Homo sapiens: one gene and its partners. The protein of the gene in region 2 purifies or fractionates together with the protein of the main gene of each other region. This does not show direct contact. Each region holds a gene or a part of one and is shown on either strand. Other genes may lie near its edges.

Region 1 (4,512 bases), on a different chromosome or scaffold from region 2:
GTAATCCCAGCTACTCGGAAGCCTGAGGGTGGGAGAATTGCTTGAACCCGGGAGGTGGAGGTTGTAGTGAGCCAAGATCACACCACTGCACTCCAGCCTGGACGACAGAGCTAGACTCCGTCTCAAAAAAAACAAAACAAAACAAAACAAAAAAACAAAAAAAGAAAAGTTTCGTGAGTGTGATAATGCACAGTGGTATGAAGTACAATATCCTTACGCTTAGGAGATACATGCTGAACATGCTGAAGTACTTAAGCAATACAATTATGATGGCGCACTTATCAACTGTTTCAGAAAAAATGGTATATACATGGATCAATAGGTAAACCAAATGTGTCAAAATCTTAGAAGCTAATGAATCAGCGTAAACGGTATATATATGGGCATTCGTTATACTATTCTTTCTACTTTTCCGTAGGTCTAAAAATGAAAATAGGAAAACAAAAAGTTATAAAGGTATCTCATCCCAAATCTACAGGCCAGCCCCAATAGATTCTAGAAGTGTGTGGAATTGAGGCAAATGAGCAGAAGGTCACATTAGGCAAATGTATTGAGAGAGTTCTGGGGACTTGAAGACTTCCAGTTGCACATAAGTACACCATCATTTCTCAGTCTCCTCATTTATCAAACGGGGATGATGGCACTTTCACTAACAGTTATTAAAAGGACTGAGCTACACTGTATCCAGATTTAGGACACAGAACAAATCATTTTAAGTGGTATATCAGGTTACATTTTAAGCGGTTTATCAGGTTACATTTTCAAGTAATACATTCAATATGTTTTTTCTCAACCTTCAGATAAAATGATGGAAAAGCAAAATCTCTCAAAACTAAAGTCTGTAATCTGTGAAGAAGTACAGTAAGTATACAACAGCATGTTCAAAAAGTCTGGAAACACAGGAAACAAAGCTGCCTTGAGATGGAAGTGCAAGGCCCTTTCAACCTTCAAACAGCACACATTTACTGAGCACCTACTGCATATCAGGAACTGGCTAGAGTCTGGGGACACAGTGGAATTTAGAGCCTTGGGCCCAGTCCTTGTGGACTGATATTCTAGTTGCAGGAAGCCTGATGATAAGTTAGTCAACAATATTGATTATAGTTTGTGGCAAATGCAATCAAATAAATAAATCAGATGCTGTGATAAACAGTAACACTGAGGGGAATAAGGGAAGCAGCCCACTCTAGCCACGGAGGGTCTGTGAGCTGAGTATTGACGGATGAGGAGGCAACCATGCAAAGGTCAAAGGGAAAAGCAGTCCATGGAGAACAGCAATAGCAAATGTCCTGAGGAAAAGCATGCTTAGAGAACAAGACAGAAAATCAGGGTAGGAAGCCTTCTGCCGTGGTAAGACGCAGCAAGAAGTCCTTCCCGGGTGCAGCCCCTCGACCTTGGACTTCCCAGCCTCTGGAACTGGGTGGAAGCACTGGGGATGCATATACCACGTTAATGGCATCCATGGAAGGCAATGAAAATTACATTTGATACTTAAAGTGTTTCAGCTAACATAAGGTAATGACTTTATAAATCGAGAAACTTAAAAAAATCAGAGTAATAAAAGGGAGACAAGTACTAGATGAGATTGGAAGGTAGGGTAGGCCACATTATAATGTGGAGTTTGGCCTTTGAGAGCAAACAGGGTATCTATAGACTTAGAGGGTTGTAAATAGGGAAATATGAGCTGTTTTATTTGAGACTAGTTAGGAATTGTCTTAGGAAGAGCCTTTTTGTAGACTTTGATTTTCTTAAGGCATGTGCCACTCTGAAAAATACAAAAATGATTTTGAAAGAAGTGGAAAAAAAGTTGACTGAATAGGGTGGGACAGGGGAAACTTAGAGGGCAAGCAAGAAGAATGTGGAGTTTATTAAATCATGCAGGAAAGTTAAAGAAGCAAATGTTAGCAGTGCCCATCTCAGCACTGTCTATGGGGGAGGAAACCCTGGCCAGTGGACTTCAGCCCTGCTGGTCTAGTCAACAAGGCCTTGGATTTTATGCTTCGGTAGGGATAAGAGTTGTTATGTCAGAGGTTGCTGATTACTGTATGAGGACATTTAGCATTGAAAAGGGTTTGAGCCATAATGCCTGGCTCAAGATATTTCAGCTGATAGTATTGTTAGTAGTTTTGGATCAATACAAGAGTTAATTATTATTTCATCATCATCATCATCATCATCATCATCACTATAGGAATCTCCTACCTAATATGTCAAACCTGAGCTCTTCATCTTCTTTGCAGATCTTTCTCCATATCAGTAATGGCAGAACCCTGGGAGTCACCCTTCAGACTCAGTCACTTAAGAGCCCTGTCAAAGTTATCTTCAAAGTGCTTCTGTCCCATCCACTGCCTTCTCCACTGTCCTTCTGTCCTTGCCACACCCTTGTCACCATTACCCCTCCCCTGGCCCCTCTGGCCCTCTGCCAAATGATTCGCTACACATCAGGTAGAGCAGCCTTTAAATTTGCAGATCTGATCATGACACTCCCTTACTTGGAACCAACCACTTTGATGGCTTCACTCTGTTATTAGAACCAGCTGAATTTCCTTAGCATGGCCAAGATGGCCCTTCACAACCTCCTCCATGGACTATTCTAGTCTCATTTAGTGTTATTCTCCCCTTACTCACTACATCCTTGCCCTGCTAGCTTGTTCTATGTTCCTTGGACTCACTAAGCATCTTTTTGCCTCAAGGCCCTTGGACATTCAGTGCCTTCTTTCTGGAAAACTCTTGTCTCCCCATTTGCCTGGCTAACACCATTACTTCATGTCTTTTATTTATTTCTTTTTGAGATGGAGTCTTGCTCTGCTGCCCAGGCTGGAGTGCAGTGGCACGATCTCAGCTCACTGCAACCTCTGCCTCCCGGGTTCAACCAATTCTCCTGCCTCAGCCTCCCAAGCAGCTGGGATTACAGGCACCCACCACCACGCCTGGCTAATTTTTGTATTTTTAGTAGAGATGGGGATCTGCCATGTTGGCCAGGCTGGTCTTGAACTCCTGACCTCAGGTGATCCATCCACCTCAGCATCCCAAAGTGTTAGGATTACAGGGGTGAGCCCTTGCGCCCCGCCTACTTAATGTCTTAGATGAGGTATCACTTCTTCAGGGAGGCCTTCCTGGATCCCTCCAAAAATAGATTTTGTGCACTTGTACTTCCTTCATAGCATTTACTCTATGTAACTATAGGTTACTTGTATCATTATTCATTTAGGATCAATCTCTCCACTAAACAGTAAGCTCTGTGAGGGCAGATGCCATGCTGGTCTTATTCATTAAGGTTTTCCCAGTGAGCACAGAGGACAGAGAGGACATTCAGTAGATATCTGTTGCCTGGATAAATATATGAATTGAACTGATCCTACCTGCTTCTGCTTTTCCCCGTCCGTGGACAGGGCTCCTTGCAGGGAGACCGTGTGTGTGACTGGCCTCAGAATGACTGTGACTGACTTCTGCAAGCTATGCTGGCCAGATAAGCAGGATTCAGGAAAAGCATGCATTTGTTCATTGAAATATTATATGTTCAAATCCCTAGAATTCATACTCATAAACTCCATGACAGGCAGCACTTTGTAATTTTGCTGAGGCTGAAACTTGAGCCACATGGCTATGCAACTGGGGTGGGGGGGATTGATTCTCTCGGCCAAAGAACAAGAACATGAGCTCAATTGACAGCCCAGAATCCGTGTCTCTGACAGACCTGTTTGAATCCTAGCTCTGCATTTGCTTTTCTCTCAGCCTTTGTTTTCCCATCTATAACAGGGGGTGATACCTTCACAAGGTTTTTGGATTATATAAACCAGTGCAGGTGAATTTACCTAATCTCTTTTCCTTTCTTCCTCCATGCTGAGAGTTCCCCTAAACAAAAGGAAAGCTTGGGCTCTCTAATCCCTTCCCTTCTTCTCCCACTCTTGCAGCTAGACAACTAGTGGAGCTAGACAACTCAGACTGATCTCAAAATGCCCTCAACAACATCCACAGACCACTCGCAGAAGGCAGAGATGAGACGAAGGGCCCTCACAGTAAGATGCTTACTGACTGACAAGGACGCTGACTATTGCTGGGTACCATTCGGCTGTGTTCTTTGCAGGACAATGTTTTCAAACTACTAGTGCTAATTTTCCTCCTTCCTAACTCTTGGACCCCAAAGAAGCTGGAACAAACATTTAAGGATAAAACAGCACTGCAACACACCCCATTTATTCTTGGTCAATATATACTGGTTTGAGGCCTTTCTCTCTCTTATCAAAACATAAAAAATATTCTGTAATAAAAGTAGATTCCGTTTCCACCTTAAGTCATTATTGCCCATGATAGGTGTATTCCCCGGGAATCAAAATAGAAAGGAACAAGAAATGTTAAAGGTGAACTTTAAAACAAGCTGTTAATATTAACCTTTCTGGTAATCTCCAAAACAATTACATAAGCCTCACTGAGGGTAAGAACACATGGAACTTGCCTTCGGGTCTTTGTTTGGAGAAGGACATGCACCTTTCTTTGAGGGTGCTACAAATG
Region 2 (5,526 bases):
TGATGGTGATTTGTAATCAGTTTCTTCTTCAACTGTGGATAAATTTTCCTCTTTAGAGGTGGAGATGTCCCAAGGAACTGAGGAGTTCTCACTTGGCCTAGAATGATGAAATCTAAAACAGCTCCTGGACTGCAGATCACGTATCACTCGGGACATTTCAGCTACTTGTGTCTGGAGATAGAGGATGGCATCCCGTCCATGCTGTGAAGCTGAAGAAGAATCTATACGTAAATTCTCTTTGACCTCAGAAGAGGCCAAAGATTCTTGGGGGACCAGAAGTGGAGATGAAGGCAGAGTCTGAAAATTCTGTGATGATTTAAGGGTCTCTGTCTCAGAGATCTTAGTATCTGAATTATTTTGATCATTTTTCTGGTTCTCCAATGGGTTCTCAACAGAGGAAGTTTGAGAAACTATCCTTTCTGGACTGCTGGAACAACTCCCAGAGAAGGAGCTGCTATCTCCAATGGGAAGAGGAACATTGCAGCTAGAGCACATTTCTGGGCGATGATTCTCAGAGGATGGCACCTTAGATTCAGGCATTCTCTGGGTTATCCACATGAACAAGAAAACCAAGGAAGAAAAAAAATATGCTTTTAATATGTTAACTTTCAAGTGCAGAGATTCATGTCCAGTAAGTAGAACTCAATTTTTAAATTATTATAATTAACAGTGAAAGATACAATCCACTCAAGGTCAGCAAAAGGAATCAGAGAAGTCAAATCCACAAGCTTCACTACCCCAAAGACCCAAAATCAACTACTGGCATTAATCTGGGACTCTGTTTATGAAAAAGGAGAGAGTAAAAACAAGCTCAGATCACGTGGTGCTATGCTGGCCTGCTGTTTGGTCCTGTGTGAGACCACTCATAAGAATAAAAGAAAAAAATATCCCATTCAAGATATGTTAAGTTCTACTCAAGATATGCAAGAAGCTAATGATGGCAAAGAGAACTTAAGGAAAGTTCCACTGAGAAGAAAAAAAATCTAAAACTCCCCCATTAGAGTCATTTTAGGCACCTCTGAAAATTCTGTCATTCACTGTCCACGAATAACAAAACTTCCCAGTTGTATAGTCCTACTTTATGGTTTGTAGTTATAAGAAGTTATAATTTGTTACCTCATTTCATCCTCACAACAACCCTGTGAGGTAGGTATTATTTGATTAAAAAACGGAGGCTAAAAGGTTACTTAATTTATCCAAAGTCACAGAATTTGTAAAGAGTAAAGCTGGGACTCAAACCCAGGTATTCTGATTCCAAGTCCAAGTCTCAATCCCCTATATCACAGAGCAAGAAGTTTGTGGCCACTCTGAACAATAACTAAGAGTTTTCTAATCCAAGATGAAAACAGCTCATTAACAGAAGTTTGGGCTAAAGCAAGGACAAATGAAAGGCAAGACTGTTACAAAGGGCTCAACTAGTTCAATTCTCAGAGCAAGGGAAGTATTGGTCCAAGGGTCAAACCTACAACCAGTACATCACAGGTAAGATAAATAACTCCAAATATGTGGGGCACAGACAAGGTTAAAGGGATGATGACTGAAGTAATATATCCCCTATAAACCCTTCCCCCACTTTCCATTCCTAAAAGGATCTCTACATATCCTTTTTTCTAAGAGAAAACAAATTTTCTGTGGTCATGTGGTTCTGGAACAAAAGAATCCTGTTGTATAGGGCACCTGAGGAGAGTAAAGGAAAAGAGAAGGGAAAGAGGAATCAATAAGCTTGCAGTTTTTATTCCATTTCCATTTTATCAGATATCACCTCTAAGGCTCTGAATTTCCCAGAGTCATATTATCATTTTTTTCATAATCTCATTCAAAGTAGAGGAAAAAAACTGGAAGTAGGAGATCTGGGCAAAGGACTCCTTGGACTACCTATTTTAGCCCATTCTAATAGAACTGGCTATTTCTAAACACAGCCTTCCCTGATTTGGTAACTCTCTTTAGAGAATACCTCTTAAAAGACACAAGTGAAGAAACACAAATCAAATATAATGTACTTACATCAGTATAAGAGGTGCTAGGCTCTTCATCATCACTGCTGACCAGATCAATGTATTCAAGAACAGGTCGTAATGGTCCTTCCTATAAACAATCAAGCAAATTTAGAAGTCATTAACAGTTATTCAAACCAAATTAGCATTTAAACCTACAGTGTTTTTTTTGGTTGGGACTGGCAAGAATTACTCTGAAGAGGGAGCTTTGTGGGTAGCAGAAAATAACCAGAACAAAAGCAGCAGAGGAAAATATTCAAAATATATAAATGTAAAATGATGACAAGACCTAAAAGGAAGCACCTACACCCCTGTAGAATATTAGGGCCATGTCAATTACTTGGGAAAGGAAAATTAATATAAGAACAGTGCTACAAAGACACAAATATTATAATCCAGTGCTTTACACCTAGAATTGGTATCAAAAGTCTGTTAATATATCCAAGTTCAAAAATGAATTGACTTATAGCTCAGCTTCATCATCCACCACTGCAGAGTCAAGCATCAAACCTGAATTCTTTTCCATTCTTTCTTTCCATCCATGCCAATTTCTTCATCAACCAGGCCTTGAATGTCAGGCTTAAAAGCCTAGATTTTATTCAATAGGCAAAAGAAAATAAAAAATAATAATAAGACAATAACATGAGAACTGTGCTTCAAGATCAATCACATAGAGGAGTATGGAGAGCAGGGAAAGCAAGATAATCAGTATAGGCACATGACAATGCAGAACTAATGGTGGTGATGGCAAGAAGAGTATGGTAGTGGATATACAAGAGAATACAAGTAAAATGGAAAACTAAAAGAGATTGATTATTAGGCCAGGTGTGGTGGCTCATGTCTGTAATCCCACCACTTTGGGAGGCCAAGGTGGGGGATCACCTGAGGTTAGAACCATGCCTGGCTAATTTGTGTACTTTTAGTACAGATGGGGTTTTACCATGTTGGCCAGGCTGGAGTTCGAGACCAGCCTGACCAACATGGTAAAACTCCATCTCTACTAAAAATGTACAAATTAGCCAGGCATGGTGGTGCGTGCCTGTAGTCCCAGCTACTCAGGAGGCTGAGGCTGGAGAATTGCTTGAACCTGGGAGGCAGCAGTTGCAGTGAGCCAAGATCACGCCACTGCACTCCAGCCCGGGCAACAGAGCAAGACTATCCCAATAATAATAATAATAATAATAATAAATATATAAATAAAAATAAATTTAAAAGATTATTTAAAAAACAAAACAAGGAGTCAGTGATCTCTAAGTTTTTAACCTCAGGTGACTATAAGAATAGTAATGCCAATAGTATAACTTTGGAAAGCAGAAACAGAAAGCTGACATTCCTATGGGCTGAAGTAACAGTGGTACACAGGGTGTATCTAGCAGACAGCTGGAAATGCAGGCCTGTAATCTGGGAAGTATGAACATACCTGGAAATAAAGACTTGAGAGTTGCTCCCCTAGAAGACTATTAAACTCTAGAACTAAACTGAACTATCATATTGCCTCAATAAAAAGCTGTCAGTGTTAAATGTGGCCAGAAACACGGCAACAATAAAATGCCACTGAATGTGGCAACCAGACATTTTTAAATGTCTTTGAGAGAGCAACTTTCAAGAAAGTAGTGAGCACAGAAGCCAGGCTCTAAAACACTAGAGAATGCAGTAGAAAAGGCCATATTCTTTTGAGAAATCCAGTATGTTGGAAACAAAAGAAAGGAACACAGAAGAAATAATAGCTGAGGAAAGGATTTTGTAGGATGTAGAAAGTTGACTGCTGGAGACAGAAGCTGAGATCTAGGTAATGATCTTCCCTAGAATAGGCATCCAGTCTCAAAGATAGCTTCTTTCTCCCCTAGGCTATGACTTCTGCTCAACCAAGAAACTGCCATCTTTTGGGTACTAATTCAGATACCAAGATAAAACAAGAGGGCAAAACTGGGCAGGGATCTGTAGCAAAGGAATTGAGATTTTTGCTCAAACTATAAACACGGAAGTAAAAATTAAAGAAACAGAGGAAGCAATACTCTCCAATATATGGTAAACAGAGCTGAATCACCTACTTTAAAATCTACATCTGGTATGAAGAATGTAGGCCATGCACGGTGGCTCACACCTGTAATTCCAGCACCTTGGGAGGCAGAGGTGGGTAGATGACTTGAGGTCAGGAGTTCAAGACCAGCCTGGCCAACATGGTGAAACCCTGTCTCCACTAAAAATAGGAATAGGGTGTAGTGGCGGGCACCTGTAGTCCCAGCTACCCAGGAGGCTGAGGCAGATGAATTGCTTGAACCCAGGAGGCAGAGGCTGCAGTGAGCTGAGATGGTGCCACTGCACTCCAGCCTGGGCAACAGAGCAAGACTCTGTCACAAAAAAAAAAAAAAAAAAAAAAAAAAGACTGAAAATTGTATGTTCGATCCAAGAAGAAAAATTAAAATGATAGCTTTTCCCATTGATATAATCATCTTACTTTGCTCTCTACAAGAAATATGCATTAGGAACCTTCATTATAGGTCCACAGAAATAGCAGAACACAAAAGCGCCCCCCTACCCCCCCGCCCCGGTAACCAGAAATACACAGAGGCAGAGTTCCCATGCACAGAAAGTAAAGAAGAAGATGAAAGATGACAGGATGCAAGGTAAAAAGTAAAATGGGCTGGAAAAAAATAAGATAAACAGGCTGGGCACGGTGGCTCATGCCTGTAATCCCAGCACTTTGGGAGACCAAGGTGGGCGAATTGCCTGAGGTCAGGAATTTGAGACCAGCCTGGCCAACATGGTAAAACCCTGTCTCCACTAAAAATACAAAAAATTAGCCAGGCATGGTGGTGGGCGCCTCTAATTCCAGCTACTCAGGAGACTGAGGCAGGAGAATTGCTTGAACCCGGGAGGCAGAGGTTGCAGTGAGCCAAGACTGTCCCACTGCACTCCAGCCTGGGTGACAAGAGCGAAACTCCATCTCAAAAAAAAAAAAAAAAAAAAAAAAACAGAAAGAAAGAAAGGAAGAAAGAAAATGATCAAAAACATAATTTAAAAATAGCTGCAGGCAGGATGGCTCATGCCTGTAATCTCAGCACTTTGGGAGGCCAAGGCAGGTGGACCACATGAGGCCATGAGTTCGAGACCATCTGGGCCAACATGGCAAAACTCTGTCTCTATTAAAAATACAAAAATTAGCTGGGCGTGGTGGTGTACATCTGTAATCCCAGCTACTCAGGAGGCCGAAGAACAAGAATCGCTTTAGCCCAGGAGGCAGAAGTTGCAGAGAGCTGAGATCACGCCAGTGCACTCCAGCCTGGGCAACAGAGAGGGACTCTTGTCTCAACAACAACAACAACAACAACAACAAAAAAAAAAAGCTGCAGTAATATTTAAAGGGAAGGAGTAAGGACAAATAAGGTTATCAGAAATTTATTCTTGCAGTGAACCATTAAACCAATATGCAAACATTTTTCAACTACTGAAGAACAATAATTTTATATGATTCACACTAAGAGAAAAGAAAAAAAGGAAAATATGGATAGAAAATCCAGACGAGCGTGGT
Region 3 (4,512 bases), on a different chromosome or scaffold from region 2:
TTTCTTAAAGTGAGTTATATATTTTGTGCCTAACTTCACATTGCTTTACTCACTTCTCAATAGTTCTGAAACACAGACAACATCAAGGGGGAAAGAAAGTGAAGATTCATCTTATAAGCCAATTTTTTCAACACTTCCTGAAACCAACATTTTAAATGTGGTTAAGGTAGGAAAGAACTTTTATGTGTCTTCTGCTCAGAGCTAGAACCATTTAGTCTGTGGTTAATGGTTTTTAAAAAAAAAAAAGTCTCGGCCGGGCGCGGTGGCTCACGCCTGTAATCCCAGCACTTTGGGAGGCCAGGGCGGGCAGATCACAAGGTCAGGAGATCGAGACCATCCTGGCTAACACGGTGAAAACCCGTCTCTACTAAAAATACAAAAAATTAGCCAGGCATGGCAGCGGGTACCTGTAGTCCCAGCTATTCAGGAGGCTGAGGCAGGAGAATGGCGTGAACCCAGGAGGCGGAGCTTGCAGTGAGCCGGGATCGTGCCACTGCACTCTAGCCTGGGCAACAGAGCAAGACTCTGTCTCAAAAAAAAAAAAAAAAAAAACTCTCTAGTTTCTTACCAGGTGATTTCCAGTCTCTGAAATTTCTTAGCAATAATCTTTGTATTAAAAATTGTTTTTGCTGTTTTTATTTTGTTTTAATATTAGTGATGAACAGAACTTTAAGTCAGTTACATCATTAAATAGTTTTGAAACCAATAGTTTTTTATAAGTAGGATGTATGAAGAAAAAAGACTTACAATACAACTTAGTAATCAAGAGTTAATGGCAGAGGCCGGGCGCGGTGGCTCATGCCTGTAATCCCAGCACTTTGGGAGGCCAAGACGGGTGGATCACCTGAGGTCAGGAGCTCAAGACCAGCTTGGCCAACATGGTGAAACCCCATCTCTACTAAAAATACAAAAAAAAAATTAGTCAGGCGTGGTGGCAGGTGCCTGTTATCCCAGCTACTGGGGAGGCTGAGGCGGGAGAATCACTTGAACCCGGGAGGTGGAGGTTGCAGTAAGCCGAGATCACACCACTGTACTCCAGCCTGGGCGACAGAGTGAGACTCCGTCTCAAAAAAAAGAAGATAAAAAAAAAAAGAGTTAATGACAGTGTGAAACATTTTTAGTTGCTGAATTGAATCAGTGATACAGAACCATTAAGAAAATCTCAAAAATGGAAAATGGAGAAGAAAATGCCACTTAATTCAACTATTAACATTGAGTAGTTCTTGCCTTCTTTTCTCTAGACATCGGATGTTTGTTTTCTTTATAGTTCTTTTTTGCATCTTTTGTCAAAAAGAGTTTATAATTAAAACTCTAAAAGTAAAATATACCTCCTAAAATATTTTTGTCTGTGCATTTATGTTAAACAGTTTCTAGGCTTGTGTACATCTATACATCCAGAAGGTTACCAGGATCGTGAAATAATGTTGCTGATTTTAATGTTATTTAAAATGAGTTTGGAAAAACAGCTGAAACAGATTCCTTTAGTAGACTTTCAAAGCCTCCTGATAAACCTGATGAAAAACATCAGAGATTGGAACACAAAGGTAATGTTACTTAAAACTTCATTATTCATTTTTTATATAGCATTACAATTTGACTCATAGTGCATATGGAATTAATACTGTTTCTAAACTCAAGATCTTTGGCGGATTAAAAATGAACTGAGGAAGGGAATGTTTGCTGGAGCTGTATTATTTAAATTCGTGATAATTGAATTTTTTCTAAAACTTCAACTCTTTATCCAACAAAAATGTGTTTATTGGGGATTTCCTATGGACTAAGCATTAATGTAGGTGCTAGAGATTGAGCTGTGAAAGAGACAAAGCCTTTGCCTTCATGGGGCTTTTGTCCTAGTCAAAGGGTTAGATAAACAAGTAAATGTTGATTATATTATCATGTCAGGTAGTAGTTAAGTACTACAAATGAAAATAAAGCAGGACATGAGTACAGCAAGACCAGATGCTATGCTATTTCATATAAGGCTGGCAGGGAAAGGCCTTTCCAAAATAACCTTGGAGCAGAGACCTAAATGAAATGATGGAGTGAGTCATACCTACAACCAGAATTTGAGTTGAACTTCTGCAACCATATGGAGGATGAACATGTATAATTTTTGTTAGGCCTTTTTAAAAATTATATTTTTCAGTCTTTTTTGGTGGAAAAATTAAAATATGCAAAAGTAAGGCAAAGAGTATAATAAATTCCTAAGTATCACTTTGCTTCAATAATTGAGACATAATCTTGCCTAATGTAAAACCGACCCTATATTTCCTTTCCCTGCTCATCAGATTATTTTGAAGCAACTGTTACGCTTTTTTAAAAATTGATACACAATGGTAATACATATTTTGGGGGTGTTAGGCTTTTTTTTTTTTTTTTTTCTGTAAGACAGCATCTCCTGTCACCCAGGCAGGAGTGCAGTGGCGCAGTCTTGTCTCAGTGCAGCCTCTGCCTTCCGGATTCAGGCGATTCTCATTCCTCAACCTCCCGAGTAGATGAGACTATAGATACATGCCACTCCGCCCAGCTAATTTCTGTGTATTTAGTAGAGACAGGGTTTTACCATTTTGGCCAGGCTGGTCTCAAACTCCTGGCCTCAAGTGATTCACCTCCCTCGGCCTCCCAAAGTGCTGGGATTACAGGCTTGAGCCACCACACCTGGCCAGGTGTTAGGCTTTTAAAAATACTGGAATAGGATCCCTAAAGTGCAAGAAATCCCAAATCAGGAACATATATGGTCTTGTACAGCTCTCATACACATTTGTATTTAGATCAGTTTATCTTTCCAAGAAGGACTGTTTAAATATCAATGGGAGATATGATGTAGTACAAAACGTGAAAGCCAAGTGAAATTCTGCTAAATGTATCTGTTCAGTCCATTTAAGATAGTATAAGTAAAACTGAATCTGTGTATTGTGTACATTTTAGCAGATTCTAGACTCCATGCTATTTCTAAAAATGTGCTCTGTTTTGTACTAGTGCTTCCATTATGTCAAGAAGGGTTGTAGATGATCTGTTGGGTGTTTTATTCTACTGTTCTGTTTGAAAAGAAATCTTACATGTTCTTTTTTTTCAGGTGCCTGAACTCTGTCTGGGCATAAATGAACTCTCCAGTCATCCCCACAACCTCCTGTGGTTGGTACAGCTGGTCCCTAATTGGACATCACGTGGAAGGTATTAAAAAGTGAAAATTAAACATTAAGAAATTTTATAATTTTACATTAATGAAATGCCTTGGGTTGTTTATTTCCATTCATCATTCTTTGAATGTTAGATCAGATATGTTTATTTCATATTCAGTTGCGAGAAAAGGCATTGATAGCCTGATTCTGCCTTATTCTAATTCTTAACTCAGGTCATTATGTAATTTTTTTTTTTTTGAGACAAGAGTCTCACTCTGTCACCCAAGCTGAATATTTTTTTATTTTTAATTTTAGTTTATCTGTTACCTTAATACAGATGACATATTCCACAAAAATAAATGAATTAGCTTTTTTTTGCTTTAGTAAAAATAAATTTCATCAGTAAAAAAATAGGTTTTCTGTCAGTAAATCATCAGGGTCAAAGATAAGGCCGTTAAATGATTTATTGAGCTTCAGATAACTCAAGTTTTATGTACAGATATTTTACATGAAAATTTTACTGTTCTATAACAGCTTATATGTTCCTGTACAGACTTCTCTTGAAACATTGCCTATATTTCCAATTAGAACTAGAGCTCCTCTTGGCTCATTCATTTGCTTTTCAAGCAGTATTAATTAAAATACATTCTAAATACTTTTAACTTCTAATTCTAGGCAACTGAGACAGTGCCTCAGTCTAGTGATTATTTCAAAGCTTTTGGATGAGAAACACGAAGATGTTCCTAATGCCAGTAATCTGCAGGTATAAATAAATACATTTTTATTTTTAATAAATGGGAGAGGTAATGAGAGGTGTAAGGAAAATTGATGAACCCTAAGTCAAAGGTCCTGGGGTCAGAGCTCAGCTCTTAAGCTTGATACTGTTCATGTAATCTCTAGCACACTTAACTAACAAGATCCAATTTTTTCATCTGTGAAATGGAGATAATATTGCACCCTCCACCACTTAGGGTGGTTGTGGACAATCAGATGTGAATTAATGTATAAAGAAACTACTGGGAAAATCATAATGTGCAATTATATGAATATGATTTCATTTATTGAATTAGTTCAGCTTTTCCAAGTTAGCAATTTTATCACAAGATTAGAAATTGCAAAACCCTTGTACATTGATTGCATCTTTAACCTGTTTTAAAATGAGTCTTTTTAGATCATAGAGCTTAAATGTAGTTGCCCTCTAGTACTTGTTCAGTAAGAATATATCATGTATATATGAGAGTGTGGATAAACATGTCCAGCTGTTGCTGGGTACTGGTGGCACACACCTATCGTCCCAGCTACTTGGGAGGCTGAGGCCAGAGGATCCTTTGAATCCAGGAGTTCAAGTCCAACCTAAGCAACATAGGGAGACCTTGTCTTTAATATATAT
Region 4 (4,512 bases), on a different chromosome or scaffold from region 2:
TATTTTAACTTATATAACATCTACAATACTTAAAATAACCATAATATATAACCATAATGCATGTGTGTGAACACAGACTACCCCTAAAAACCATTAAACAGAACTAAGACTATTAAGCACATTTCTGTAAATATTTCTTTGGTGACTGCAAGCCAATAAATTCAATTCTCACAACAAAAGTATTTAGGAATAATATTGAAAGACAAAAATAGGCCTTAAAAAAAGGGCTCTTAAAGTAACCATAAAACCACCTACAAAAATGATTTTTCCCCAAACTGAAAACATACATATTCTATTGCTAAGTTTAAAAATGTTCAAGTTTTTCCTCCCCCATATATTCTGTGTATACGCATTTGTCCCCTTTCTCTCGCTTTCACATTTACTTGTGCTATAATCCAGTCACCCAAACTCCTCTCTATCCTTTTTCTTTCTTCCATCAGCCTTTCTCAGCGGATTATGGCACTTTTTCTCAGCCACTGTACTACTGCTGAACTTTTTTTACTTTTTTAGATCTAAAAGCTAATTTGGAATGGAACTTGAATCACACACTTAAAGTTTCTACCTTCCTCCCCAGTTGTATAAATAAAGATAAATGTGCAAGTTTAATAAAGCAGATTAGAGTTATGAGTACTCTACAGTTAAAATGCTAATAGAGATGGCCATAAAGTACACAAAGGCCCTGCAATAACCACTCTCATAACTTTTAGTCAATGTGTGTGAAGATGTGTGTATCCTGTGTTTTCAAGCCCAGATGCATAAACACAGAGTTGAGAATAAGGGTAGTGGACAATACTAGAAGAAAGAAATGTGCCCCTAGAATCTTCAGCAAATCTGCAGGATGGGAAAAAAAAAAAAAAAAAAATGCCTTCAGGCTTACTATAGCCACTCCCATCATGAAACCAATTATAATAATCCGACTTATACCATGCAAGAAAGATTAAATTAACAGTAAATCTAATAAATTACCATGGAATTACAAGTAAGAGTAGTTTGAAGTTTAAAAACTTTATGCAGTCCAGCAGCTTCTGCTTGTGCTAGTTTCTCTTCAGTCATTTTCACCACAAATTTCACAGTTGTGTCAGTATGATATTCTTTATAATCAGAAATTAATGCTGGTGTTTTATCTGTTCCATTTAGCATAGGTTCTAAAACCTGTTCTTTATATACCTATAAAGATTTAAAAATTAGTGATTCTTTTCATGACACACTCTCATGTTCTCATACTACAAGTCATACAGTCTTGAAAATTCTCAACTCTCATGGGGAATTAAAAAGGAAACCTCAATCTCTATCATCTCCTATCCAATCAGTATAGAAGGCAATACACAGGGATCTCGGTGGTGGGAAAAGACATAAGAAGTAATGGTGCTGACCCACTCATACTCTAAAGGGCAAGATAAAGGCTGAGTATGAAAAGGATGACATCAACTGGAACTGTCAAGAGGTGACATGCATACTTTTAGATTTGTAAAGCTGATGCTGACATGAATTTACTGACCATATTTACAAGAATTAAAAACACTGTCATATTCTACTCCTTTTATTTTAAATAAATACAAAGATAATAGTCTATAAAAGCCTTACCTAACATAAGTCATACTACGCTACTTAGATATAAATACTATTTAAATATTCAAAGCACAAATTCAACTGAAGGGTAAAAGAAGGTACAGGAATTTTTTAACACTACGCACGCTTAGGACCAACAACGGTGGAATCATCCTTACCAGAAAAAATTGCTTAATACACTGCCCTTCCCTCAGGCAGATCACATATTTACACTGACCTGTGTCCAAGTTCTAACTGGAAGCTCTGTAATTTCTACTGTGTTTCTGTCCACTACAAATATTTCACCACTGACTGCATACTGGTTTTGACCAAGTTCTTGAATCGTGCCTTTAAAGTTTTTGTAGTTTGGAAGCTGTAGAGAAAAAGGTAAATAGCATTGACTTCTCTCTTGAGTACCAGTACCATGAGTCTATGGTCTAACATTGACAGATTAACACAACTGAAACAGAATTTCTCATCCTCAATTGTCCCTTTCCAACTGATCAATTAAGCTTGAATTCATAGCTTCTGTTCATACAACCTGAACATCCTCCAATCTCAAAATGTTAGTATCATCTTTCCTAGTCTTCCTAGAACAGTACTTTCTTTCAGCCTACTTCCCCTACACCTACTTCTCTCCTAGATCAATATCCTTTAAATTCAAACTCCTTGGGCCTTACATTGAAAGCATTTCATAGTCTGGACCCAATCTGGCTTTCAATTTTTTCTCTAATGATTTGTCTTACAAAACCACTACTCTTCTCCCATATTTTGTTTGACTATTTTGAATATTCTCACTTTCACTCTATCCACAAGTCCTGACACATATTCAGGCCCAACCCCATTCCATTCATCATTCATCTACATAAATCTTACTCATCCTTCCCAACTGAATTACAAGTCCTCTCTCCCTCTTCTAAGTTTTTATTTGTTTTGAGACAGGGTCTCCACTTTGTCACCCAGGCTGGAGTGCCGTGGCACGATATCAGCTCACTGCAGCCTCAACCACCTGGGCTCAAAGGATCCTCCCACCTCAGCCTCCCAAGTAGCTGGGGTTACAGATGCGTGCCACCATGTCCAGCTAATTTTTGTATTTTTGTAGAGACAGGGTTTTGCCATGTTGCCCAGGCTGGTCTTCAACTCCTGAGCTAGTGATCTGCCCAGCTCAGCCTCCCAAAGTGCTGGGATTATAGACATGAGTCACTGCACCTGGCCTACTCTAAAATTCTTATTCGTTATTATCATTAAGAAATCGAGTATATAGGCCGGGCACAGTGGCTCATGCCTGTAATCCCAGCACTTTGGGAGGCCAAAGCAGGCGGATCACTTGAGGCCAGGAGTTCGAGACCAGCCTGGCCAACACAGTGAAACCCCGTCTCTACTAAAAATACAAAAATTAGACAGGCATGGTGGCGCACACCTGTGGCCCCATCTACTCAGGAGGCTGAGACAGCAGAATCACTTGAACCTGGGAGACAGAGGTTGCAGTGACCCAAGATCACACCACTGTACTCCAGCCTGGGTGACAGAGTGAGACTCTGTCTCAGAAAAAAAAAAAAAGAAAGAAAGAAATTGAGCATATAGCATAGGACATTTCTTCTGGCATACCAAGCAACTATCAATATCGTTTGTCACTGTTAAACTTCAAGCCTTGATGCTTTGATGTCTTGTCTTGACAACTGTTTAACTTTTCAAAGATAAAAACCATAGCTCTTTATCTCACCACTTAGCACAGTTTCATACACATAGTAGGCACATAAGAACCATGTATTGATCAAATACACTATCTTAACAATCTAAAATCCATTTAAAAATCCAAAACCATTTCAGTAAAACACTATCATTAAAAATTTGATGCTTATGTTAGAAATATTTTGAAGTACTTTGAAGTATTTAAGAGAAAAAGCAGAATATATGTCTTATTGCTAAAGAATAACTTTCACTTTAAAATACAAAAATGAAATAAAACTTGGAAAAATACATCAAAATATTGTCTCTATATTGTGGGTTTATGGATTTTTTTACTCTTTGCTTACCTATATTTTCTACAATAAACATTATCATTTTGGTAATAAAAATACACTTTTCTCCAGGTAATTTTAAATCATGGGGAGGAAGGAAGGACATTTTTCTTGGAGGAGGTCTGAGCAGAGTGAATGATACAAGAAAACAACAAACATAAAAAAAAAATGGGGATTTTTTTTTTTTTTTTTGGGAGACGGAGTCTCATTCTGTTCCCCAAGCTGGAGTACAGTGGCGCAATCTCGGCTCACCGCAACCTCCACCTCCTGGGTTCAAGCGATTCTCCTGCCTCTGCCTCCCAAGTAGCTGGGATTACAGGTGCCCTCCAGCACACCCGGCTAATTTTTGTATTTTTAGTAGAGACAGGGTTCTACCTGGTTTGGTCAGGCTGGCCTAGAACTCCTGACCTCAGGTGATCCACCCACCTCGGCCTCCAAAGTGCTGGGATTACAGGCGTGAGCCTGAGCAACACCTAATTTTTTTTGTATATTTAGTAGAGATGGAGTTTCCCCATGTTGGTCAGTCTGGTCTCGAACTCCTGACCTCAGGTGATCCATATGCCTTGGCCTCCCAAAGTGCTGGAATTACAGGTGTGAGCCACCACGCCCAGCCTTGGGGATATATTAAAATATATACAAGGTAGTTTGTTTTCTGTCTTTTTACAAATGGTACACTAATGAATACAATGTGTTTTTAAGCATCCTTACAAACTATTAAGCGGTAGTTTGAGAACAGAAACAAGGTTACACATAATTTTATCAGAAAAGGATTGTTTTCTAATAATATAGGGTTTAGAGGTTTGAAAACCTGGAATATGAGGTGTTTCTAAATTTAAATAAACAGTTTCTCCCCATGAAACTTACCTCCAAAACTCATTCCAAAGTTTATACTTTTTACTGTAGGCACATATCAAATTATACCCTAATTAGGTCTTTACGGTCT

What was found. Proteins that work in one complex are often made in the same cells at the same time.
Region 1: the proteins of ZNF451 (region 2) and SIMC1 purify together in Homo sapiens (affinity purification with western blotting; one study listed by BioGRID and IntAct). This does not show direct contact.
Region 3: the proteins of ZNF451 (region 2) and SLF2 purify together in Homo sapiens (affinity purification with western blotting, with the first as the bait; one study listed by BioGRID). This does not show direct contact.
Region 4: the proteins of ZNF451 (region 2) and TOP2B purify together in Homo sapiens (affinity purification with mass spectrometry; one large-scale study listed by BioGRID and IntAct). This does not show direct contact.

The regions. Positions count from the first base shown.
Region 1 is NC_000005.10:176,339,424-176,343,935, reverse strand, and holds part of SIMC1 (SUMO-interacting motif-containing protein 1), read right to left. Parts: intron 1-4,512.
Region 2 is NC_000006.12:57,095,620-57,101,145, reverse strand, and holds part of ZNF451 (E3 SUMO-protein ligase ZNF451), read right to left. Parts: intron 2,086-5,526; coding exon 2,005-2,085; intron 544-2,004; coding exon of another isoform or gene 1-543. UniProt on the Homo sapiens protein: E3 SUMO-protein ligase; has a preference for SUMO2 and SUMO3 and facilitates UBE2I/UBC9-mediated sumoylation of target proteins. Plays a role in protein SUMO2 modification in response to stress caused by DNA damage and by proteasome inhibitors (in vitro).
Region 3 is NC_000010.11:100,943,963-100,948,474, forward strand, and holds part of SLF2 (SMC5-SMC6 complex localization factor protein 2), read left to right. Parts: intron 1-63; coding exon 64-166; intron 167-1,367; coding exon 1,368-1,544; intron 1,545-3,076; coding exon 3,077-3,174; intron 3,175-3,797; coding exon 3,798-3,885; intron 3,886-4,512. UniProt on the Homo sapiens protein: Plays a role in the DNA damage response (DDR) pathway by regulating postreplication repair of UV-damaged DNA and genomic stability maintenance.
Region 4 is NC_000003.12:25,618,896-25,623,407, forward strand, and holds part of TOP2B (DNA topoisomerase 2-beta), read right to left. Parts: intron 1,922-4,512; coding exon 1,787-1,921; intron 1,168-1,786; coding exon 967-1,167; intron 1-966. UniProt on the Homo sapiens protein: Key decatenating enzyme that alters DNA topology by binding to two double-stranded DNA molecules, generating a double-stranded break in one of the strands, passing the intact strand through the broken strand, and religating the broken strand.